Homo sapiens: one gene and its partners. The protein of the gene in region 4 purifies or fractionates together with the protein of the main gene of each other region. This does not show direct contact. Each region holds a gene or a part of one and is shown on either strand. Other genes may lie near its edges. The genes, in order: POLR1F, SARAF, ALG14, SLC13A2, PCNX3, KDSR and SEC24D.

Region 1 (3,500 bases), on a different chromosome or scaffold from region 4:
AATAGTCATAAACATATAAAATGATAAATTGGACCTCATCAAAATTAAAAGTAACTGTTCATCAAATAATACCATTACAAGTTAACAGACAAGTCACAGATTGGAAGAAAATATTCAAAATACTTATCTGAAAAGAATTCATTTTAAGACTAAAAAGAACTGCTATAAGTCAATAATAAAAATACAAAAACCCAATTAAAAATGGGCAAAATACTTGAACAGGCCCTTCTTACTGAAATATATGAAAAATTGCTTATGAGGGAAACGGAAATGCAAATTAAAACCATAATGAGATACTACTATATGCCCATCAGTACAATTAAAGGACAATAGCAAATGTTAATAACGATACAGAGTAAATGAAGTGTTGAATGGGAAATCAGTCTGACAATGGTTTTATATAAATACCCTGTGAACTAGCTCTTCTGCTTCTAGTTATTTACTTAAGAGAAATGAAAATGTATGTTTTCATTCATATGTCTGAAAATATATGTTTTCAATAGCTTTATTCATAAAAGCCCCAGCCTGGAATCAATCCATCAATGAAGACAGATAATTATATTGTGATATAGTCATATAACTGAATACCATGAGCAATAAAAAGGAACAAACTACCAATACACACAACAGCATGGATGAAACTCAAAAACATGCTGATCAAAAGGCGGCAGATTTTAAGAATGTATAATGAATAATTCCATTAATATGGAACTATAGAATAAGCAAAACCAACTTATGATAAAATCAGAAGAGTAATTATATCTGCAATAAAGAGAAGGAATTGGGCCAGGAAAGGGCATGAAGATCCTTTCTAAGGAGATGGAATGGTATACAGACCTGACGAAATTCACTGAACTGAACAATATGATCTGTGCATTTTATTATATGTAAATTTTATCTCACCAAATATTAATAATAATAATTGAAGGAAAAGTGGGTGGTCAAAAATATTTGAGGAGTGGATCTTGTAGTAGGTAGATTAAAAGGGATATTTTTCATTTCATACTTTTTCTACAATCTGTTATTTCCATGTACATGTATATATGTTATTTCCGTGTATGTGTGTGTGTATTTTTACAGACAGGGTCTCACTGTTGCCTAGGCTGGAATGCATTGGCGCAATCATAGCTCACTGCAGCCTTGAACCCCTGGGCTCAGGTGATCCTCCTACCCCAGCCTCCTGAGTAACTGGGACTACAGATGCATGCCACCATGACTGGCTAATTTTTTATTTTGTGTAGAGATGAGGTCTCACTATGTTGCCCACGTTGGTCTTAAACTCCTGGCCTCAAGTGATCCTCCTGCCTCAGCTTCCCAAAATGCTGTGATTGTAGGTGTGAGCCACTGTGGCTGGCCTACATGTTTATATTTAAAATAATAATTTACACAAAGTAGATGAAAGTTAAGTTTGTTAATTTCCAAATACAAATCTACTGCCAACTTTAGTAGTCCAGTTATAAGATCCCAGTTTAACAGGCAAAGGATACTACTTGTATTAATTTGATATTGAAAAATGAAAAAAATTGGAAGTGTCTTGTGGGTTTTGTCATGGTTAAATTGATCTATATTTTTATGAACAATATCAAGGGTTAACAGTTCTGATCTATTAAAATATTTATCAGCTAAGGAAAAGAACATATACACACACATACAAGTATACATACGAACATGTGTATACACACAGAGAACTGCTGGAGGAAGAGAGGAGAAAGTAAAGAGTAAAAAAGGATCTATTTCAGCAGATTTTGTATCAATATCTGCATTTCCAGCTTATGAAAAACTGGAAGACCTTTCCCACAGAGCTTCCATTTCCAAGGCACAGACTGGCTGCCCTGTCCTCTGTCATTGATAAATTTTCATTACTGCCTGGCCCATTTGAATTCCTGTTTCATATACTGCTATATTCTTTGAATCCTTTATAAAGAAATAGTATTTGTGTAGAATTGAGAACTTTTGAAATAATAATGATAATTGATTTTTTTGCCCTTAAAATCATTCTGCTACTATGAAAAGAATAAAGTGGATGGGACATATATCGTGTGCATGTATGTGTTTTAGGAGGATATTCAAAAACTTACCTACGTTTGAATGATACAAATTAATTTTTCCTTAAAAATAATATTTATTTACTCACAATAGCAATTTATTTGAGTCCCAAGGTATATATTATCTCTTAAAATGTTCCAAGTTACATAATTATAGAATTATACAAAGGGAGCTAGAAAAAAGTGATACACATACCATAAGCTTCTGCCCTGGTTCAGGGCAGAAAATAACAAAATCGGCTTCAATGTTAAGATGAATGTGTCCTTGATCATCATAAATATCTCCAAGCTCTCCCACAACTTTGATGTTATCATATGCAATAGGGACACCTAAAAGGCTGTAAAAAGAAAAAGTTGAAAATGATACCTTTTATCGTCTTTTATTTATTTATGTTTTTGGAGACAGGGTCTTGCTCTGTCACCCAGGATAGGGTGCAGTGACATCAACAGGGCTCACTGCAGCCTCGACCTCCTGGGCTCAATTGATCCTTCTGCCTCAGCCTCCCAAAGTGCTGAGATTATAGGTGTGCACCACTGCACTCTTTCAAACCAGGCCATTTTCATACTGATTAGATATTCTATCCAAAACTTACACATCTCCTAAATACACCACCTATGTCAAAAACAATAGTATATGATTAGTCTGTAACAACTTTAGTAGTCCCATTTCACCAATGGATTCTGATGTGTTGGCTAAGTTAAAATGATGACTCAAGATACACAGAAACAAAATGCCCAATTAATGCATTAGCAGTAAATCAACTCTTCTTCCCTGGCCAAGTCCCATTCTTTCTATCCTAGCATGACTATTTGAATTCTTCAAGTTATACTAGGATAGAAAGAAGGGACTTAGCAAAGAAAATGTGTATCTCTGTGGACATGACTGAATAAGAGGCAATTTTGGTATTATTCACCATTACTGAATTTCAGTACTTGACGGCGTATAACAAGGGAAGCATTACGGTTAAAGCTGAAGCCCCTGAATTTTAAAGTCAATGACTTAATAGAGAAAATCCCAAACTTCAACTGTTGATAGTAAATGCAAATGTTAATACAACTACATTATTTAGGAACTGACTGACACTTTAGTCTACAAATGTAACAGTCATGATTAAGGGACAACTATTTTTCAAACTGTTATTTCTTAGCTTTTAAGGAATTATAACTATTAAGGAGAAAGACCTAGTGGTGGGAGGCGGAGGGTGTGGTGAGCTGAGATCTCAGCACTGCACTCCAGCCTGAGCGACAGAGGGAGACTCCATCTCAAACAAAGGAACAAAAAACAACAAAACAAACAAAACCTGGTGGCTTCATTACCACACCCACTACTTGTTGGAGAAAACTTCCCTGACTCCCCCAGGCAAAGCTGAAATCATTCCTCTACTCCTATAGGCCAACTTTCTCACTGTTCTTAATCTAATTGTATTGAACCTATCTGTATATATGTTTGAATTT
Region 2 (3,500 bases), on a different chromosome or scaffold from region 4:
GCCCTATTCCACGTGCCAGGGTAGGAGGGAGGATAGGACGGGTAGTACCACGAGTCTGAGAAGGGTGTTGCCGCTCTTTAAAGGGATAAAAGTAGGTTAGGCATTTTTTTCTTGTGGCTATAATTTTTAAATACCTTCCTGTTCCTAAACTGTCAGAAAAAAATATCTTTATCAAGTATTTTTTCCTGAATGTTCTGGTATATCAGAGTTAACATGAAATAAAAACCGTTTCATATTTCTGCCATTATTATGGTCACTGCTATGGGGGAAAAGTGACAGGGAGTCAATGCTCTTTCTGAATTTGCACTCGAATAAAATCTAAACTTAAACTACCATTAATACTTCATATTCCAAAATCTGGCCCCAAGCTCTTTCCAGCCTTATTTTTATCATTCTCCTACCAAACCAGACTGTTCCCCAAATGCTGTCTTCTTTCCTGCCTTCTTATTTTCTCAGATGTCAACTAAACAGTCTTTTTCTTATCTCATAATATATATGAAGGTGACACAGGAAGAAACACAGTGAAAGAAAATAACATACACAATACTGATCAAAACAAATATAGTGTACCTTCCCCCTTCCCAGAGAATCTTATTTAATAGGCTAACGTCACCACAATTTATTTTCCTTAGCAAAACTAAATGCAGTTAAATTGTAAGCAAAACAAGCCTCTTGAATTAAAGAGCAAGTGAGATCAATGCAAAAAGCTTACCTATTGCTGCCAAACAAATATCCTAGTATTCCACCAGTTCCCAAGCCTGTCCAGAACCCTGGTCCTGAATTTTCATATCCTTGTTGTCCTGTAAAAGCACTGCCAAAACCAGAAGTTGCACCATGGCCAGTATTCTGTGGTCCTTAAAATAAAAATGATTTATTATGTATCCTCACTTAAACATGACAGTCTACAAAAGCAAAGATAATGTAACATTTCAATTATTTCATCTGTACTGAATTATTAATAATACTCAGGCATCAAGTTATTAACAAGTTGTATTCAAAAAGGTATTTGTAAAATACTGGTTTATAATGAGGGAGAGCATTTCCCATAGATATGGGAGGAGAGGGATAGATTTTGGGACTGGGGAGGGTCTTGCTATAAAATGACATCTGCCCTGCTCAATCAGCTACTAGAAAATCACCCCACTTTTCAGGGTTACTTTCTCTCTGCAGTACAAACTCTAAGTGGAGTCTCTAAGAGCTCCAGATGAGAGCTGTGCCTCAGTCTCTAACCGAGGAATCCAAGGGGAGGCAGCCAGATATTTATTTGTGTCAGTTGGGAAGTCAGATCTCAAAGGGACCTAAAAAGTATCTTCTGCTCAGAGGAAGTTTTAACTGATGTATACATATATATAAGAAAGTGTGCTAATCTTACACGTGTGGCACAACAAATTTGTACATATGTACCTATCCATGTAACCACCACCCACACCAATAAACCATTTCTGGCACCCCAGAAGGCTCCCTCATGACAACTCCTAATAGATTCCCATCTATGTCAGAGATCAGCACTACTTTAACTTCTCTTACCATATTTTAATTCTGTCCATTCATGAACTTTTTCTAAACAGGATCACAAAGTATGTATTCTGTGTCCGGCACATCATTATGTCTATGGGAGTCAATCCTACCATTGCATTATCAGTTTTTTTCTTAACTCATGTGTCTTCCACCGTGTGAAAAATTTACACAGTCCCATTCTAATGTTTATGGATATTCCACCTCCATTTTTTGGCAGTTATAAATAAAACTGCTATGAACATTCCTGTGCATCTTTCTTGGTGCACCATGCATTCACTTCTCCCAGGTATGTACATAGGAATAGAATTGGGTATGCATGTTTGGGTTGTTTTACCATTTAAACTCCTACCGGCAAAGTATGAAAGTTCCAGTCACTCTACATTCTTGCCCATACTTGGTACTCTGTCTTTTTAATGTTAGCCATTATGGTGGTTATCTGGTGGCTAAAAATAATCTCCCTGTGGTTTTCATCTGCATTTCTCAGGAGACTAATGATGCTAAGCACCTTTTCTTATTTCTGTTGAACATGTAAATCATGGGTTGGGACCCCAGTACTGCTCCACGGCCTGTTAGGAACTGAGCCACACAGCAGGAGGTGAACAGCAAGCAAGCGACTGAAGCTTCATCTCTATTTAAAGCCACTCCCCCATCACTTGCATTACTACCTGAGCTCAGCCTCCTGTCAGATCAGCAGCAGCATTAGATTCTCATAGGAGCACAAACCCTACTGTGAACTGCACATGCGAGGGATCTAGGTTGCATGCTCCTTATGAGAATCTAATGCCTGATGATCTGTCACTGTGTCCCATCACCCCCAGATGGGACCATCCAGTTGCAGGAAAACAAGCTCAGGGCTCCCACTGATTCTACATTACATGAGTTGTTAATTATTTCATTATATATTACAATGTAATAACAACATAAATAAAGTACACAATAAATGTAATATGCTTTAATCATCCCAAAACCTTCTCTCCCCACCCCACCCCACCCCAACCCCCCTAGTCCGTGGAAAAATTGTCTTCCACAAAGCTGGTCCCTGGTGCCAAAAAGGCTGGGGACTGGTGAAGTAGATGTCTTCTCTTATTATAAAATGGGCATTCAAGTCCTCTTTGGAGGGCCTGTCTGCCTGTTGCTCAGATTTACAGGAGTTCATTTTATGTTCTACCGGAAATACATTTTATATATATATATGCCGGAAATACGTTTCGTAAATTTTTCCCAGTCTGTAGCTTGCCTTTTCACTCTCCTAATAGTGCCTTTTGATGATTAGATGTTCTTAATTTAAATAAAGTCTAATTTACCCATGTTTTCTTTTATGGCTAGTACTTTTTATGTTCTGTTTAAGAAATCTTTCCCTATCCTAAGGTCATAACAAATATTCTCCTATGTTTTATTCTGGAAACTTAATTGTTTTACCTTTTACGTTGAGATTTATAATACTTAAAGAATTAATTTTTATGTATAGTGTGAGACAGGAGTCAGGGCAAATGATTATTAGCAAAGTTGATCAAGTTTCTCTGATTAAGAGTATTTATAATTTAATCAGGCATTTTTTTTTTTTTTTTTTTTTTGGAGACAGGGTCTCGCTCTGTCACTCAGGCTGGAGTGCAGTGGCGCAATCTCGGCTCACCGCAACCTCCACCTCCCGGGTTCAAGTGATTCTCATGCCTCAGTCTCCCAAGCAGCTGGAATCACAGGTGCCCGCCACAACACCCGGCTAATTTTTGTATTTTTAGTAAGAACGGCGTTTTACCATCTTGGCCAGGCTGGTCTCAAACTCCCAACCTCAAGTGATCTGCCCACCCCGGCCTCCCAAAGTGCTGGGATTACAGGCGTGAGCCACCGCGCCCGGCCAATCAGGCATTAACATAGCAACCACAATATACCTTGGGAGAGAGCCAAACAGAAGAGGTAAAAGAAGTTGAAAGTAAAAAACAAAATGAGAAGACAAACCTCCTTTGGTTTCCCAATGCAACGAT
Region 3 (3,500 bases), on a different chromosome or scaffold from region 4:
GACCTCAGGTGATCCACCCACTCGGCCTCCCAAAGTACTGGGATTACAGGCGTGAGCCACCATGCCAAGCCCACATTTTTTTTTAATAGTAGAAAGGAAAGGATTTCGTTCTAGATCCCAGAAGGAATTATATATAGAAACAAATTTGGCATAGATTTAGTGTGAATTTCAGGAATTAAAATCATACATTAGCTTTATAACCTGTCACCCATCTTCTTGACTGGGGCATATAATTTACACATCTGGTTTATACTCATTTTAGTATCTTTGGTTTAGCCTCGAAAAAAAACAAAAAAGTTAGGCCAGGTGCGGTGGCTCATGCCTGTAATCCCAGCTATTCAGGAGGCTGAGGCAGGAGAATCACCTGAGACTGCACTCCAGCCTGTGCAACAGAGCGAGACTCTGTCTCAAAAAAGAAAAAAAAAACAAGTGGTGGTACTCCAAGTAGGTATTTGTTTTCACAGCTGGAATAATTAAGGATAAAACCTAATATCCACAACATCTTCCACTACAATTAAAACTTCATTATACCTGCTTTAATAGTCTTTTATTTCCTTTTTTAAACTTTTTATTTTTATTTTTATTTTTTAAGGAAACCCTCATTGAATACTGTGAAAGTTGTCAGGATAAAAATAGAGTCACTTGTGACAAAATGGAGCTGGGAAAGGCCATGAAGGAAGGGTTCTTAATGCTCAATCGCCTGAAAACAAGAACTGTTACAAAAGACTATACCAAAACCACAACCTTGTACAAAGGCCACTGCAACCTTATGCAAAAAAAAACTTCTGCAAGGACATCTGCCCAGCAGTTGCCTGCCTAACCTTGGACTGATGCCACCCTTATTATTGATCCCTGTAAGCAAGGATAATTGTTTCAAAACAACTTATGTAACCCTCCCCATTTTAGCTTTAAAAATTGCTGTCTTCCCTTGCCTCTTTGAATGTGCCCATAGTTTACTCGGCATGTGTGTTCCACACTACAATGCTTACTCTTGAATACACTTATTATCTTTGGAGAATCTCTCTCTGTTATTTAGCTTGACAGTATATTCACTGAAAATTTAAACTTGTTACTGAATAAAGTCATTAAAATGATGGATTTTGTCTTCCATTTTACTCTTTTATTGATACATTTTTTTTGAGAATAAGAATCTCTAAGTTCTACCTTAAAATACATCCAGCATCCAATCATTTCTCACCATTTCTTTTGCTACTCCCCTGCTCCAGGCCACTATCACCTCTCATACGGATTATGAACAGTTTCTTGATCTGTTCCCTGACCCACTTCCCCTTCAGTCTATCGCAACATAACATCCCGTGTGACCCTATTCGAGTTGATCAAATTATTTACTTCTGCTCAAAATCCTCCAGTGGCTTCATGTCTCATGTGAAATAAAAGGCTTCTTATACTCTGACCTCAACTATGTTCCCTCTTGGAGCTCATCTCCTGTTCCTCCCCGCTTACTCAGTCTACTCTAATCACTCTAGCCTCCTTGCTGTTGGCTGTCATCTCCCCAAGAAGGCTTTCCCTGACAATCTTCATAAAAAAGCAATGCCCCTTCCCCAAATCGTAGTGTTTATCACTGCATAACTTACTATGTAGTCTATTTATTTGTTTTGCTTTTTATCTCCCTCTATCCATGCCTCACTAGAAGGCAAGCACCATACTATGAGGGCAGGGATTTGTGTTTGTTACTGCTGTACCTCCTATTCCTAGAAATAGCAGGCTGTCCTATTGAATGAAAGAATGAATGTTTGATATTAAATCTAACATTTGCCTAAGAAGGCTGTATTATGTTTCAAAGAAAAGTAGTTTTGGCAAATGTTCTCTGAACAGAAGTGATCTACTAATAATTTTTTATTTTTTTGAGATGGAGTCTTGCTCTGTTGCCCAGGCGTGATCTCGGCTCACGGCAACCTCTGCCTCCTGGGTTCAAGCGATTCTCCTGCCTCAGCCTCCTGAGTAGCTGGGATTACAGGCACCTGCGACCATGCCCAGCTAATTTTTTTGTATTTTTTAGTAGAGATGGGGTTTTGCCATGTTGGCCAGGCTGGTCTTGAACTCCTGACCTCAGGTGATCCACCTACCTCAGCCTCCCAAATTGCTGGGATTACAAGCGTGAGCCACAGTGCCTGGCCTACTAATAATATTTTATGATATCTAAAGAGTAAATGTCGCTTGGTCTTCAAGGTAAATATTGAAAATGCCTTCTGCCTCCTCCAAAATTTTGGGCATGAACTATTAAACTGCTTATTTGATTACAAGTCTTCCTTTAATTGGCATGGTTCTTTCAGGCCCTTGATACCTTCCTACCCTCAATAATCTGAATGAAGGCACCATTTGCCAGGTGAATTATCAACCTTAATTTTGGTTTCTAGTCCACCAAATGTAACACTATCAAGTGAATGGTTCTAACATCCATCCATTTGTTCAAGTCAGAAACCTGGAAATCACCCTTCAGTCCTTCCCTCCCACATCCTCTACTTTCAATCCACAGTTGTGGATTTAACTCCTAAAATCTTCCAATCTCATCTGAATGCGATTGCTTTTCTCCAGCCCCACACCTATCACTCCAGTCAGACTCCAGTCTCTCAACTCTGGCCATTCCAAGTGCTATCACCTTCTTTTCACATCCTTATCTGAAATATTCAAAAGGCTCCTATTTGTTTCTCTACTTCGGTCTTTGTCAAGACATTCTTTTGACAATGCAGGCTTGAAGTGGGTGACTCTCCACTGAAAAAGATAAGTCATGTGCGGTGGCACGTGCCTGTGGTACCAGCTACTCGGGAGGCTGTCTCAGAATCGCTTGATCCCAGGATTTAGAGGCAAGCCTGGGTACATAACAAGAGTCTGTCTTAAAAACAAAAACCAAAACAAAACTTCAAAAGCTCCTTTTGCCACCAAGACTAATAACAGTAACCATTTATTAAATGCTTATGTAAAAAGAAAAGAAAATGTCAAGACCTTCCAAATTTATTATGCCAAGGGGAAAAGCTAAGCCCTGGAAACTGACTCATGTAACATGGCTTTTTCTCTTTGGTGTATGTCTGTTGCTTCCTGACCTTTGTGTTGAGATGTTATACATTAACCAGATTCCCTAGTCTTTATTCAAACCTAGACTAAATGACATTGGAGATAGAGGCCTTTGTGATTGTTACCTCCTTATACCAGAATGTTAAACAAATCCCTTAGTGTGTAATCAATAGTAGTGTTGGGACTTAGAAAATAATATCCCAAAATGAAGGCCTTAGAAGCAAAAATTTTTCTCTGGCCTTCTCCTGTCCTCTGTCTCTCAGTCCCATACTCCCCTGAGGCTTGCCATAGAAACTAGAATCTCTCTTCCCCAGGGCGGGTCACAGAAACCAAGAACTCCTTCTCCCAAAAGCTGGTCATAAAACCTAAAAATACTACTCTAATTTTACTCCACCTTTCTGTGTAAAAACTGGCCATAAAGAAATTATCCGAGCTGGGGAGCTGGGCGAGGTGGCTCACACCTTTAA
Region 4 (3,500 bases):
GGGATACCAAGACCTGGGGCACCAGAGAGGGCATGTTGTATTGTCTGTGAACACACACGTGTGCACTGTCCAACATACATACCTAGGATCATGTGCATGCACACAGCCCCCCTCAGATAGCCTCACGTCACACACCCCTCACATCCATGCAGGCGCACACATATGCGCACACACACATGCACACACCTTTTATTCCAGCACATAGGAAACTGAGCATACACCCCTTCCTTACAGACACGCAAGAGATTATGTACACACGTGCCTTTCAGCCTTTGGCCTGGAGCTTGGAGCTTGGAGCTTGGGGTGTCCCCTCCGGGCTCAGAGGAGTGGGAATGGGGTGGGTCTTCCTGGGCATGGCCAGGCTGTGCCCCAGCCTAGGGGCTTGGTGTGGTGGTGTTGGCCAGGCTTGGCAGGCACTGGGCTGTGGTGTTGGACTGTGCCCAGGAGGGGAAAGAGTGCAGGCTGAAGAGGGGGATGCCCCAGCTGTTGATGGCCAGTGCGATGATCAGGACTCCAATGATGTTGAGGAGGAATCCTGCCCGGGCCTGGTGTGAGGAGAGTCCATTTGGCTAAGCAGGGACTGGGCTGGACTGCCCCCAAGTCCCCAGGTGTTTGGGGGTGCACAGGAGCCCTCCTACCAGCAAAATTCTCTCTGGGAAGTCCTCCCGTTGGTCTAACCTGCAGCATAGCCAATGCCTTTGCCCCTTGCTTTACTCCCTGTGCTAACAGGGGAAAGGGGCGCTCCTCCTGAGCTTCCAGGGCCCTGGGCTTGTTCTCTCTGAGCTCATCTCCCTGAGTGTGGGTGCCTGGCACCTTGGAGCCTTCCCCATGTTCCCCACCCACTTCCCTCCCTCTCACATAGCCTGGGGCTGGCAGGGCCTGAAGATGCCACCACTGAGAGGTCATGTCCCAACCTCCCCAACTGCACCTTCATTCCAGATGAGGACCCGCTCAACTCTGAGACTCTCAGTGGCTTTAAGCTGCTTTGTGGTTCACTAAGATGAAAAGTCAGAGCAGGAAGGAGGGATGAGGCATTCAGGCCTCCCTGCCACTTACCATATCCAACACTTTGAGGTCCCCGAAAGAGAAGACGATGGCATTGGGCGGGGTGGCCACAGGCAACATGAAGGCCAGGGAGGTGGCCAGAGTGCAGGGGAGCATGACGTAGAGAGGGTGGAGGCAGATGGCCTGGGCCTGGAGTGGGAGGCAGTGGCGCAGAGCTGAACTTGGTCCCCAAGCCAGAGGGAGGGGCATGGCCCCCAATTCTCCTGCTTCTCTGGGGAACAACCCCTGTACCCTAATACACTCTCTGGTCATGAGCCCACCTCTTCTCCCAGAAGGCACTGGGTGACCTGGAAGGGCCTCTTGACCTCTCTGGAGGGAATGAGTGTGCTGCCCTGCCTTGTGGGGTGTGGTGAGGGGAGGGGCCCATAAAACTGATCTCAAAGGGGCTCCGGGGGTGTCATCAAAGGCTGCAGGAACACGCCTGGGGAGGAAGGGGCTTGGGACGCTTCGGGGAGCAATTTCACCCCGTCACCTCAGGAATGACCAGAACAGGGACTGGGGTGGGGAGGTGGGTGAGGCCACCAGGATCCCCATCAGGATACTCCAGGGGTGACATCATGAGGGACGGGGTGAGTCAGGGGCCAAAGCGCCTTGGGGCCCAAGGTGGCTCAAGAGCCTGGAGAAGGATGGAAACTCAGGGGTCCTCTTCAGGAAAAGGAAAAGAGGAGGTGCAAAGACAGGATACTCTGCCCAGCAGGCAGAACCCCTGGTGGGGCAGGCAGGCGGGCTGCCTGGAGGAGGTGTTTCTGAGGGCCAGCTCACCATGGAGGCTAGGATGGGCAGGAAGATCGTAGTGGTGGCCACGTTGCTAGTGCACTCGGTGAAGGTGGCCACCAGGAGGGAGAGGATGATGGCAATGGCTGGAGCTGGCACACTCTGCAGTGGGGTCAGCTTGTTTCCCAGCCACTCTGACAGGCCCGATCGCTGTGGGCAGAGGAGGATGGCATGTGAGAGGCAAGGCTGCCTGGGCCCCCAAGTCTTCTGCCGAGGCTCTATGAGGCTCCTGCTCCTGCTAACATCTCCCTGGTATTCAGAGTCAAAGACAGCTCTAAAGGGATGATAGGACCCAGCTAAGACCAAGGGGTGCCCTTTCCTGCTCTTGAAGAACAGCTGGGTGTGGGAAGAAGGGGCAGATGAGAAATTAGGAGGGGGCCAAAGGGCCTTCTTGGGAAATTTGGGGCTTGGTGGGAGCAAAAATCTTTGACCGCACTGACTCCTGCCTTCCTGACCTCTCTCAGGAGGTCCCTGGACAACCTTAGCCCTCTTCCTGCCCCTTCCAGTCCAGTGGCTTGGGGCAGAGGGAACCTTGCTCCTGGCAGGGAGGGAAAGTTGGGGGAGGACCCTGACAGAGGCTGCAAGAGGCTAATGGGAGGACAGGGACAGTCCACAGGGTCAGAAGAGCTCCGAGGTCTTGCCTTCCCACGTCTGGAATGCCAGGCTGTAAGGTGGGACTTAATCTCGCTCAGTGGGGCCAGCGCCTAGCACAGGACTGGGCACAGTCAGTGGATGAACATGCCACAGACCCAGGAGTCCCCTGCACCGATCCCTGACCTGGGCAGCCACCTTCTGTTTGAGCCAGAACACGGAGGCCCAGGGATGCCGTGTCAGGGATTTCCCTCTTTTGGATGGAGGCTCTGGGGAAAGATGTTCTGGTCCCCAGAGCCTGGGTGGGTGTGATCATGGTGCCCCCTGGTGGCTGCGGAGGGCAGACCGCGTCAACACAACCCCCAATTACTTTGGTGCTGATGCTACTGTGTGCTCTGGCAGCGGGCAAAGGGCTGGGGTGGGATGGCATTTGTCTCTGAGAACAGGCTCTGCCCACCAGAGAATCCTGCCTTCCCTTGGACTTTGAGAACTGAACAAAGAGGTCCCTAGGGCTTGTGTTTCTTCCTCCCACATGAGGGCTCTAACCTAAGTCTTCCCAGCTGCTGCAAAGGCTCTGCCTACCCGAGAGGCTCCTACGTGGGGACCAGGTCTCCCCTCTGTGGGACAGAAGCAGGGCCCCCTCTCTCCCTGCCACAGAGACACCCTCACACAGGCTGAGGAGGGGGCTGGGGGCCTCTCACCTCACTGCCCTTGGCCAGGGCATAGCCACCACCCAGCAATAACACGATATTCCACGGCATCTTCTGGTTCACCGTCTTCCAGTCGAGGAGGCCAAGAGGGGCCTTCAGCTTCCCTGGGTTTTCTACTTCCCAAGCAGAGAAGGATGGGTCACCAAAGAACAAACAGGCCTTTCCCCTCTCCATTTGCGGGCTCCCTGTGTGGGTCCCTTTTGGAGCTTAACGCGTGCAGGAGGGGACCCTCAGTTCTGCAACATCTCAACTTTGTCTCCGAGTCCCTGTGCCCTTGGCAAGTCGCTCCAGCCTTTCTGGGCTTTGCCTACTCCTGCCAAGTGTGGTGGAAGGTACATTACATACTTGAAGGCAGGGGCT
Region 5 (2,582 bases), on a different chromosome or scaffold from region 4:
AGGGAGGGCGTGTTGCTGAGGATGGCGCTGCGCCATGCTGGGTCACCCTCATGTGAGATGACCAGCCGCTCCTCGTTGGCCGCAATGGCATCGTATAGGGCTGCTGGCTCCTCATATTCATCTGGGGACGTGAAGTGGTCCTGGTAGAGAAGACGGGAACAGGGGTCAGTGGCCCCTGCCCTGGAGAGAGGCTTCATCCCCCACCTGCCCATGCTGCTGGGCACACCCCTCCCCAACCTGGTGAAGCTTGAGGGCCATGCGAACCCCAGGCGCCACAACGCGGTGAAGCAGGTCCATGTCGGCAAAGACCCACTCGTCACGTGGGGAGGTGATGCGAAAATCCCCCTTGAACAGGGCGTGCAGGCCGTAGAGGAAGGGCTCCAGGCTAAGTGGGAGGAAAAACAGGGAGGGGAGAGAGGGGTGTCGAGGACCCAGGGGTAAGGCTTCAGAGTGATCCAAGCAGAGGCCTTTCCTCACGCTGAGCCTCAGTTTCCCCATCTTGACAAAGAGGCCAATCTCTGCCCATGTCTCTCACAGAGCACTGAGGAGCAGGCAAGGTCATGACCAGGAAGTGCCCTGCCCGTGGGAGAAGAGGTACCCCAACAGGAAGGGCCACTGCAGTTTCTGTGGCCACTGTGGCCAGAGACCACAGTGCTCTTCGTGGAAGAGGTGGGGTGGGGACGGCAGTAGGCCCCGCGGGACACCCGAGCACTCACCTTGCAGACATGCTGTGAGAGGCTGTCCCCAGGGCCCGGCGGCCCAGCACACACAGGCCAAAACACAGCGTGACCAGCGGGGAGTTCCAATCCTGGTCCACGGGCTGTGGCATAAGGACCCCCATCCCAGAGCCCAGCTCAGACCTGGGACAGGGACCTTGGAGTGGGGGCTGGGGCTCAGGCTAAGGGAGGCTCAGAGTGAGAGGAAACCAAATGGGGAGAAGGGGAGCAGGGAAGCCCAGGTCCCACAGCCCCAGGTGGCAGCCTCAGGTAGTGGAGCCTGACCTGGCTGCGCCGGGAGGCGCAGTACTGGATCCACTCGAGGTGCACAGCACAAAAGGAGGGCAGCGAGAGGCCAGACAGGCGGAGGTCATAGTCCTCATCCACACTCAGCGAGAAGGTGGGATCCGAGTCGGCATAGCCGGGCACCCGCACAGGCCTCAGGGCTGCCGTGATGCCCTCATGGCTGAGCCACACCTCCAGCTTTGGTGAGCGGCTCACGTAGTAGATGATGCTCTGGGAGAGGAGGGGCAGGCGTCAGGCCGGGGTCCCGGCCCTGGCCACTGGAGGAGAAAGCATGGAGGTTCAGAGGCTCCTCCCCAAGACTGAGCTGAAGTCCGCTTTCTGGGATGCCCCGCTCCTAGAGCCATCTCAGCTCTCAAGAGCAACCAAGCAAGTTGGCTCCTTCCCCTAGACCAGGGAGGAGTGACAAAGCCGCCAGGAAGCACCCACTTACAGAGCAGGAAGTCCTGTGCTGGGGCTAGCACTCACAAGCAGCATCTGCCTGCCTCTGCCCTAGAATATGCCCCGTTTGTATGAGAAATTGAGGCTCAAACAAATGGCAGCCCCCAACGAGAACAAGATCATCACACTCAACATTTACCACCTCAGCTTCCAAGTCATCAAGGTGGAGCTGGCCCCACCTGCCCTGAACCCTGTCCCCCACCCGCCTCTGGCTGGCCCCGACACTATGGTGTGGCCCTCAGGTGAACCTTCAGTGCCTGTGCAGCACGTGGGCCAGGTAGCAGCAGGAGCTGGTGTTCCTGCACAAACATAACCCCGAGCGCGGGAGCATCCAGATGTCACATGGGCAGGGGGCGGGGAGCGAGTGGGGCAGAACAGACTGAACTGCCGCCTGAACCCCGGACCTTCCCCATCATGACATTGTGGGATCCAGATCTCGGGGCCGGAAGGGCAGGCTGAAGTAGTGGGCCTGCCTCAGAGTGCCTGGGTCACAGGTCCCTTTAGGCAGCTGAAGCATGACAGCCATCAGGCCTCGCCTCAGAAAAAAGCCACGGGCACATGTGGTACCCAAAGCTGGGGGCTCCTGGACCTCTTGTTAAAAGGCCCTGTTGGGCAAAAGTACAGGAGCTTTGGAAGACAGGTAGCTGGCATGGCCAGGATGCACGGGCGGGTTAAGGCCGGCAGGGCAGCCAGTGAGGTGATGGGGATTCCATGTGCCACCCTAAGATGGAGCTAATGGGGCAGGCCCTTTGCCAGGGCAGACCCGCTCCAGACTGACTTTCTTGCCCATAGCTCGCCTCTACAATCCAGGCACCACCAGAGCTGCTAAAAAGACCCAGAAAAGAAAAGCTTCAGCCAGACAGGGTGGCTCACACCTGTAATCCCAGAACTTCGGGAGGTGGAGGTGGGAGGATCGCTTGAACCCAGGAGTTCAAGACCAGCCTGGACAACATGGCGAAACCCCATCTCTACAAAAAATACAAAAATTAGCCAGGCATGGTGGTGCATGCCTGTAGTCCCAGCTACCTGGGAGGCTGAGGTAGGAGGATTACTTGAACCTGGGAGGTGGACACTGCAGTGAACCCAGATGGCACCACTGCACTCCAGCCTGGGTGACAGAAT
Region 6 (3,500 bases), on a different chromosome or scaffold from region 4:
GTGGCGCAACAGAAACCGCATTCCTACTTATGGGAGCTTAACCACTTTGGTGAGGTTGAAGAACTGCATACACTACAGCTCTGCAATTCCATTTCTGGGTATGTACCATTCTTGCACACGTGCACAAAGAGAATACTGAAAGCTTTTCTAATAGTAAAAAACAAAACAAACTAACAAAAATACTGGGAACAAACTAAATATCCACCAATTGCTGAACTGATGAACAAAATGTAGTCTATACATACAATAGAATACTACGCAGCAGTAAAAAAAAAAAAATTTACTCCAACTTTTTGCAGCAACATAAATGAATTTTTAAAATTATATATATATATACACATATATATACATACATACATACATACATATATATATATATATATATATATTTTTTTTTGAGATGGAGTCTCCCTCTGTTACCCAGGCTGGAGTACAGCGGTGCAATCTCTGCTCACCTCAAGCTTTGCCTCCCAGATCCAAGTGATTCTCCTGCCTCAGCCTCCCTCCTGAGTAGCTGGGGTTACAGGTGCAGCTAACTTTTTATATTTTTAGTAGAGACAGGGTTTCACCACTTTGTCCAGGCTGATCTCAAACACCTACCTTCAACTGATTTGCCCGTCTCGGCCTCTCAAAATGTTGGGATTACAGGCATGAGCCACCGCACCTGGCCTAAAGAATAATATTGAGTGGTCTGGGAATGGTGGCTCACACCTGTAATCCCAGCACTTTCAGAGGCTGAGGCGGGCGGATCACGAGGTTGGGAGTTCGAGACCAGCCTGATCAACATGGTGAAACCCTGTCTCTACTAAAAATACAAAAATTAGCTGGGCGTAGTGACGCGCGCCTGTAATCCCAACTACCCAGGAAGCTGAGGCTTGAACCCAGGAGGCAGAGGTTGCAGTGAGCTGAGATTGTGCCACTGCACTCCAGACTGGGCAACAGAGCGAGACTCCATCTCAAAAATAAATAAATAAATAAGAAATAAATAATAATAATATTGAGTGAAGAAATCAAGTTGCATAAGAAGCATAAAGAAGGAAGTTATACAAATCTATAGAGAAAGAAAGTAGATGAGTGACTGCCTAGCTGAGAAGAGGCTGGGAGGAAATGGCAAGTGACTGCTAATACACATGGAGATTCTTCACGGGGTGAGGAAAACATTCTAAAATTGATTTTGATGACAGTTGCACAACTCTATGAATACATTAAAAATCATTGAATTATATATTTTAAATGGGTCAACTGTATGGTATATAAATTATATCTCATAAAGCTGTTAAAAAATAAGAATGATATAATAAAAGAAGTAGAACTAAGTATATTGGCCAGGCATGGTGGCTCACGCCCATAATCACAGGACTTTGGGAGGCCAAGGCAGGCAGATCACCTGAGGTCAGGAGTTTGAGACTAGCCTGACAAACATGGTAAAACCCTGTCTCTACTAAAAATACAAAAAAAATTAGCCGGGTGTGGTGGCACACACCTGTAATCCCAGCTACTCAGGAGGCTGAGGCAGGAGAATCGCTTGAACCCGAGAGGTGGAGGTTGCAGTGAGCCAAGATGGCACCACTGCACTCCAGCCTGGGTGACAGAGAGAGACTCTGTCTCAAAAAAAAAAAAAAAAAAGAACTAAACAATATATTATTATTTAGAGTTATGTGCATATATGGTAAAATTAAAAAGAAAAAGAGGCAGGGCACAGTGGCTCACTCCTATAATACCAGCACTTTGGGAGGCAGAGGTAGGCGGACTGCTTGAGCCCAGGAGTTGAAGACCAGCCTGGGCAACATGGCGAAACCCCATCTCTACCAAAAATACAAAAATTAGCCATGCATGATGGCACGTGTCTATAATCTCAGCTACTAGGGAGGCTGAGGTGGGAGGACTGCTTGAGCCCAGGAGGTCGAGGCTGCAGTGAGCTGAGATCGCACCCCTGCACTCCAGCCTGGATGACAGATTGAGACACTGCCTCAAAAAAAAAAAAAAAAAAAAAAAGGAAAGAAAAAAGAAAAGAAAAAGAAAGGATTAACACCAAAAATCGGGTTGGCATTTGCCCCTCTAGGAACAAGAAAAGAGGGACAAGGCTGCTGTGGGGGCTTCAGAGACCCTGATCATTTCTACTTCTTAGGCTGGGTGATGGGTGTGTGATTATTAATTTGCTATTATGTTTTATACTGAAATATAAATAGCATTTTATTCATCAAAAATTCCATAACCAAATAAATTTTAAATATTCCTTTCCTCTTAAGCATTTGTATAAAGTTCATTAAAAAAAAAATTAAAATGAAATTATTTGCCAGTAAAACATTCTGTTATTTGACCATTTGTAGATATGAATGTGTGTGGGAGTCTATTCATTTTGCGTGTGTGTGATATTCTGAGTTACTAGACCATTCAAACAATTCCACCTTTTAAAAAACAGTACATATATGCTTTCAATTAACTATTCACAGGTGAAGTAACTCTGTTTTTCCTTTATACAGCTGTGCTGAGTTATACAGAAAATGCATTCTGAAGACAGAGATTTACCTGTTTGTCATTAATAGAGTGCATTTCAATTTCTTTCTTTGCCTGCAGCAGCTTATCCTGAAAGCAATACAGAATAATTAGTCGTGATGACCGTCTATATGCATGTCCGTTTATTGCAAAGGAGAGAAAAAAAGCAATTATTTCTATATGTATGTATTAAATTCCAGAAAACACACAAAACAGTATCTACATTGCATAGACAGACTGGGCCACAGCCTATGAAAGAAAGAAGTTGTGAAGTATGTTAAGCTATGAATAAGTGATAAAAGTTTGAAAATTAATTAGAGAAAGATAGTAGAAAACAGATAAACCTCAAAATCCCAGTTAACAGTACTAATTGCTGAGGCTGACTCTACAGTTCTAATAAATGTCTTATTATTTAGTTGTGATATAAGACAAGAACAACTCTATTAATATGTACTGCTCCCCAAAGTTGAGGGTATGTGTGACTCCCTGTCAATACTGCTTTTTGTCCAATATTTTCTTCTTCTACTATAAACCCAAACATAGTAAGAATCACTTTCTGGATAGACTGGGTAAACTAGGCCTGGCTACTATAAAATACTCTTAAGCAAGGTTACCTGTGTAATTATGTAATTCTTCCAAGGTCCTAATTTTGTTTGTTTTACTTAGTCTCAAGAAAACAGATATCAGATTATCTTAATTTGCTGTAAAAAGTAACTTAAATAATATCATGCAATAGAGAGGAACCAAAGGAGAGGCGAATTCTTCCAAAAGGCATGCAGAGTTTCTAAACCTGAATATGTCTATAATGAAATAATATTGTCCTATGACTAAAGATACATACAGCTTGACTTTGCAAAGACTGGAATTAAAAATTACATTAGAAAAGAAAGAATTTCTCAGCCAGGCATGGTGGCTCACCCCTGTAATCCCAGCACTTTGGGAGGCCAAGGTGAGTGGATCACCCAAGCTCAGGAGTTTGAGACCAGCCTGGGCAACATGGTGAA
Region 7 (3,500 bases), on a different chromosome or scaffold from region 4:
TAGTTTTACTTAGCAAATTCATATACCACTATTTTCAATAAATATTATCCTTATAGCACTACACTTTAATACAAAGTTCTAAACCCCAAACCCAGCAAAGTTAGAAAAACATGAGACTTGCAGTCACAGACAAGTTTGAATTTGTGACTCCGATAAGATACTCTATTTTTCAGAGCTTCAACTTGTAATCCCATGTCATGGCAATAATATTCCCTAGCTCCAAGGATTGTTCTGAGAATTAAATGAACCAATGGATATGACGGTTTTTAAAACAGCTGTTTCATCTTCCCTGGCCATAGCCCCTGCTCTCCTTTCTTAAGCATTTTTATTCTAACAAAGCATATGCAACATAATTACAAGCACATTTATATTTTCATTTTAAAAACATTATTTTGGACAAAAGTAGGCAATTCACAACAGTAGCATTAAAATATTTTCAACTTAAATAATTACATGCACTACGAGAAGTCGAAAATATTCTTTTTTTTTTGGTCTTTTTTTTTCTTTTTTTAAATTTGCCTCACAGCTCTCCAAAAATATTCCCCCTTTAAAAAAATAAGTAGGATAGCAGCAATTTTCATGAAAACCCCTATAGACATGTCTAGAGAATTAAAAAAAAAAGCTCTGATATATGCAAGCAGAACTTTATACATCAATATTACTGTGCTCTCCCTTTTGTTTGGGAATCAACTCTATGGCAGTGATTCAAATCATTCTGTGGCATTCTCAAATCATTCTCATTATTATTCAACATACATTTAAGGTGCCTTTGAGCCATTTGAGAGAAGAGACAACCATGTAAACAAATCATTACAATGTCTTGGGATGACTGTTACAATATGCAGAGAGACTACCTAACTCTTCCTGGGGGAATTGAGAAGAGTTCAAAGAAGGAGGACTGCTTGAGCTGAATCTTGAAGGACAAGCAGGAGTTTTCTTCATATAGAAGACAGGATAAGGGATTCCAGTTAGAAAGCAAAGCTTGAGCAAAGACATGAGAGAGGATGGCACGACCAGGACAGGGGAAAGGCTTGGTGTGGAGAGGCTGGGAGGGAAAGTAGCCAGAGTGGAAGCTGTCCAGGTTGGCTGGGGTCAGACTGCAAAGTCCTATGTGTCACTTGCACTTCACCCCCAGGGCAAAGGGAAGTCAGTATCACTGATATCTGCAAAGTCATAGTCTTCCCCCAGCCATGTTATTGGCATTTTCAAAAGTACTCAAACACAAACAGAATCAGGTCCTTTATAGAGCAATATGAGAATTTTAATAGGAAAGGAACACCGTGCAATGAGAATGAACTGTTCTTAAGACACCCCCCACCAAAAAAAATCTAAGATCACAAGTTGGTCTCTCACACAGCGGCAGATACCATGGACCAGTAAACACAACAATTCCAATCCCTTTCTGACTTTTCTATTAATATTAATATAAGGTCTTGAGGTGGAAAAGTGAAAATTCCTAGACTGCCTTACAATTTGTTTTGCCATATGCTCTAAATTCAGCAAAGCAGCACACCTCTGGGAGACTCTGGCCAGCCTGGTGGCAGAGATGATTCTCCTGGGAGAGAATGGTGGTGACTTCTGGTGGAATGGTCCTGCATGGGAATGTTCATTTTCATGGACCACATACTCCCAAGTCTGGTTCTCTGCCTTTTTCTGATGTTTTGTTTGCTTCCTGATACCCTTTAACAAATCCCTTTCCACTAAAGGGGACTGTTATCAGCAAAGTAACACTGACCAAACCACATCACAGAATAGCATGCCTTGAATTTGGTCCTGGACCTGACAAACTAAAACCAAAATTAAAAGCCATTTGTTGGGGGGGGAAAATGTTTATCTAAAATAAACAAAGATAAGCTCCCTATTATATGGGTAGAATTGTAATGACCATGGTCCCTAAAGCACCATGCTTGATCCACCTATATAAGCTCACTATTAGGAGCCCTATCACCACCCCACAGCCCCTGTTCTAGGTTCAGGACATTAATACTTTTTTTTTTTTTGAGACAGAATCTCGCTCAGTCTCCCAGGCTGGAGTGCAATGGTGCAATCTCAGCTCACTGCAAGCTCCGCCTCCCAGGTTCACGCCATTCTCCTGCCTCAGCCTCCCGAGTAGCTGGGACCACAGGCGCCTGCCACTACGCCCGGCTAATTTATTTGCGTTTTTAGTAGAGACGGCGTTTCACCATGTTAGCCAGGGTGGTCTTGATCTCCTGACCTCGTGATCTGCCCATCTCAGCCTCCCAAAGTGCTAGGATTACAGGCGTGAGCCACCGCACCCGGCCTTACATTAATACTTCTTAACTCTCAGTCTCCAGACCAGTGTCCTCAAGCAAGGGCGATTTTGCCCCTAAAATAGGACATCTGGCAATGTTTGGGACATTTTTGGTTGCCACAACTCCCAGAAGGTTGGGGGAGGTACTACTGGCATCCAGTGGATAGAGACCAAAGATGCTACTAAATATCCCACAATGCACAGGATGGCACTCTGTTACCCTCCCCCAACGAAGAATTAATTGGCCCCAAATGTCAATAGTGCTGAAGCTGAAAAACCCTGCTGCAGAGAGCAGTATGCCCAGCTGTAATTCCTTCTCCACACTTAGTAATGTTCTATGTAGCTTTCTAAACTGTACATACATTGGATTGTGACCCTTCCCAGACTAAATCACTTCAGTGGTACTCTACTGCCCTTACAATAAAGTCTAAATTCCTTAAAATGATCCCACATTCCCCCGCCAATGGCATCTCTCACCGTTCCCATGCTATTCCCCAGCTATGCCAAATGTCTTGCAGGTCCTGAAAAGTACCGCCTTCCAATCCCAGCAAACTGCTTCCCGACCTGGCCAATTCTCACTCATGTTTCAGGGCATTCCCTCCGGGAAGGAGCCCTTCCACCCTAAGTCTTGTTTAGGTGCCCCTGCCACGTGCTTCCATACCACCCTCTACTTCCTTTACAATAGTACTTCCCCACAAAATTGTCATTGTTAATTTCTTTAGTGCATTTCTCACTAGCTAAGTAAATACTATGAGGACTGAGATTAGGCTTATTTTATTAAGTGTCATATTACCACAATTATTTTGTTCATCAAATAAATTGTTAAATTTGTGGCTGGGTGCAGTGGCTCATGTTTGTAATTTCAGCACTTTGGGAGGCCAAGGCAGGAGGATGGCTTGAGGCCAGGAGATCGAGACAGAACTGGGCAACATAGTGAGACCCCATCTCTACAAAAAATTTTAAAATTAGCTGGGCATGGTGGGCACACCTATAATCCTGGCCACTTGGGAAGCTGGGGCAGGAGGATCATTTGAGCCCAGGAGTTCAAGGCTGCAGTGAGCTATAATTTCGTCACTGCAATCCAGCCTGAGTAACAGAGCAAGACCTTGTCTCTTTAAAAAAAAGTGTTAGGGGCCAGGCGCGGTGGCTCATGCCTATAATCCCAGCACTTTGAGAGGCCGAGGCGGGTGGATTACCTGAGGTCGGGAGTTTGAGACCAGCCTGACCA

The links.
Region 1: the proteins of SLC13A2 (region 4) and POLR1F purify together in Homo sapiens (affinity purification with mass spectrometry; one large-scale study listed by BioGRID and IntAct). This does not show direct contact.
Region 2: the proteins of SLC13A2 (region 4) and SARAF purify together in Homo sapiens (affinity purification with mass spectrometry; one large-scale study listed by BioGRID and IntAct). This does not show direct contact.
Region 3: the proteins of SLC13A2 (region 4) and ALG14 purify together in Homo sapiens (affinity purification with mass spectrometry; one large-scale study listed by BioGRID and IntAct). This does not show direct contact.
Region 5: the proteins of SLC13A2 (region 4) and PCNX3 purify together in Homo sapiens (affinity purification with mass spectrometry; one large-scale study listed by BioGRID and IntAct). This does not show direct contact.
Region 6: the proteins of SLC13A2 (region 4) and KDSR purify together in Homo sapiens (affinity purification with mass spectrometry; one large-scale study listed by BioGRID and IntAct). This does not show direct contact.
Region 7: the proteins of SLC13A2 (region 4) and SEC24D purify together in Homo sapiens (affinity purification with mass spectrometry; one large-scale study listed by BioGRID and IntAct). This does not show direct contact.

The regions. Positions count from the first base shown.
Region 1 is NC_000007.14:19,702,538-19,706,037, forward strand, and holds part of POLR1F (DNA-directed RNA polymerase I subunit RPA43), read right to left. Parts: intron 2,900-3,500; exon of another isoform or gene 2,821-2,899; intron 2,384-2,820; coding exon 2,242-2,383; intron 1-2,241. UniProt on the Homo sapiens protein: Component of RNA polymerase I (Pol I), a DNA-dependent RNA polymerase which synthesizes ribosomal RNA precursors using the four ribonucleoside triphosphates as substrates.
Region 2 is NC_000008.11:30,066,065-30,069,564, forward strand, and holds part of SARAF (store-operated calcium entry-associated regulatory factor isoform 1 precursor), read right to left. Parts: intron 855-3,500; coding exon 713-854; intron 76-712; coding exon 1-75. UniProt on the Homo sapiens protein: Negative regulator of store-operated Ca(2+) entry (SOCE) involved in protecting cells from Ca(2+) overfilling.
Region 3 is NC_000001.11:95,066,452-95,069,951, forward strand, and holds part of ALG14 (UDP-N-acetylglucosamine transferase subunit ALG14), read right to left. Parts: intron 1,095-3,500; exon of another isoform or gene 593-1,094; intron 1-592. UniProt on the Homo sapiens protein: Part of the UDP-N-acetylglucosamine transferase complex that operates in the biosynthetic pathway of dolichol-linked oligosaccharides, the glycan precursors employed in protein asparagine (N)-glycosylation.
Region 4 is NC_000017.11:28,494,144-28,497,643, reverse strand, and holds part of SLC13A2 (solute carrier family 13 member 2), read right to left. Parts: intron 3,454-3,500; coding exon of another isoform or gene 3,371-3,453; exon of another isoform or gene 3,271-3,370; intron 3,257-3,270; coding exon of another isoform or gene 3,254-3,256; coding exon 3,132-3,253; intron 1,990-3,131; coding exon 1,828-1,989; intron 1,195-1,827; coding exon 1,057-1,194; intron 546-1,056; coding exon 375-545; 3' UTR 1-374. UniProt on the Homo sapiens protein: Low-affinity sodium-dicarboxylate cotransporter, that mediates the entry of citric acid cycle intermediates, such as succinate, citrate, fumarate and alpha-ketoglutarate (2-oxoglutarate) into the small intestine and renal proximal tubule.
Region 5 is NC_000011.10:65,632,776-65,635,357, reverse strand, and holds part of PCNX3 (pecanex-like protein 3), read right to left. Parts: intron 1,280-2,582; coding exon of another isoform or gene 1,233-1,279; coding exon 1,002-1,232; intron 821-1,001; coding exon 717-820; intron 386-716; coding exon 238-385; intron 141-237; coding exon 1-140.
Region 6 is NC_000018.10:63,357,207-63,360,706, forward strand, and holds part of KDSR (3-ketodihydrosphingosine reductase), read right to left. Parts: intron 2,587-3,500; coding exon 2,530-2,586; intron 1-2,529.
Region 7 is NC_000004.12:118,826,127-118,829,626, forward strand, and holds part of SEC24D (protein transport protein Sec24D), read right to left. Parts: intron 1-3,500. UniProt on the Homo sapiens protein: Component of the coat protein complex II (COPII) which promotes the formation of transport vesicles from the endoplasmic reticulum (ER).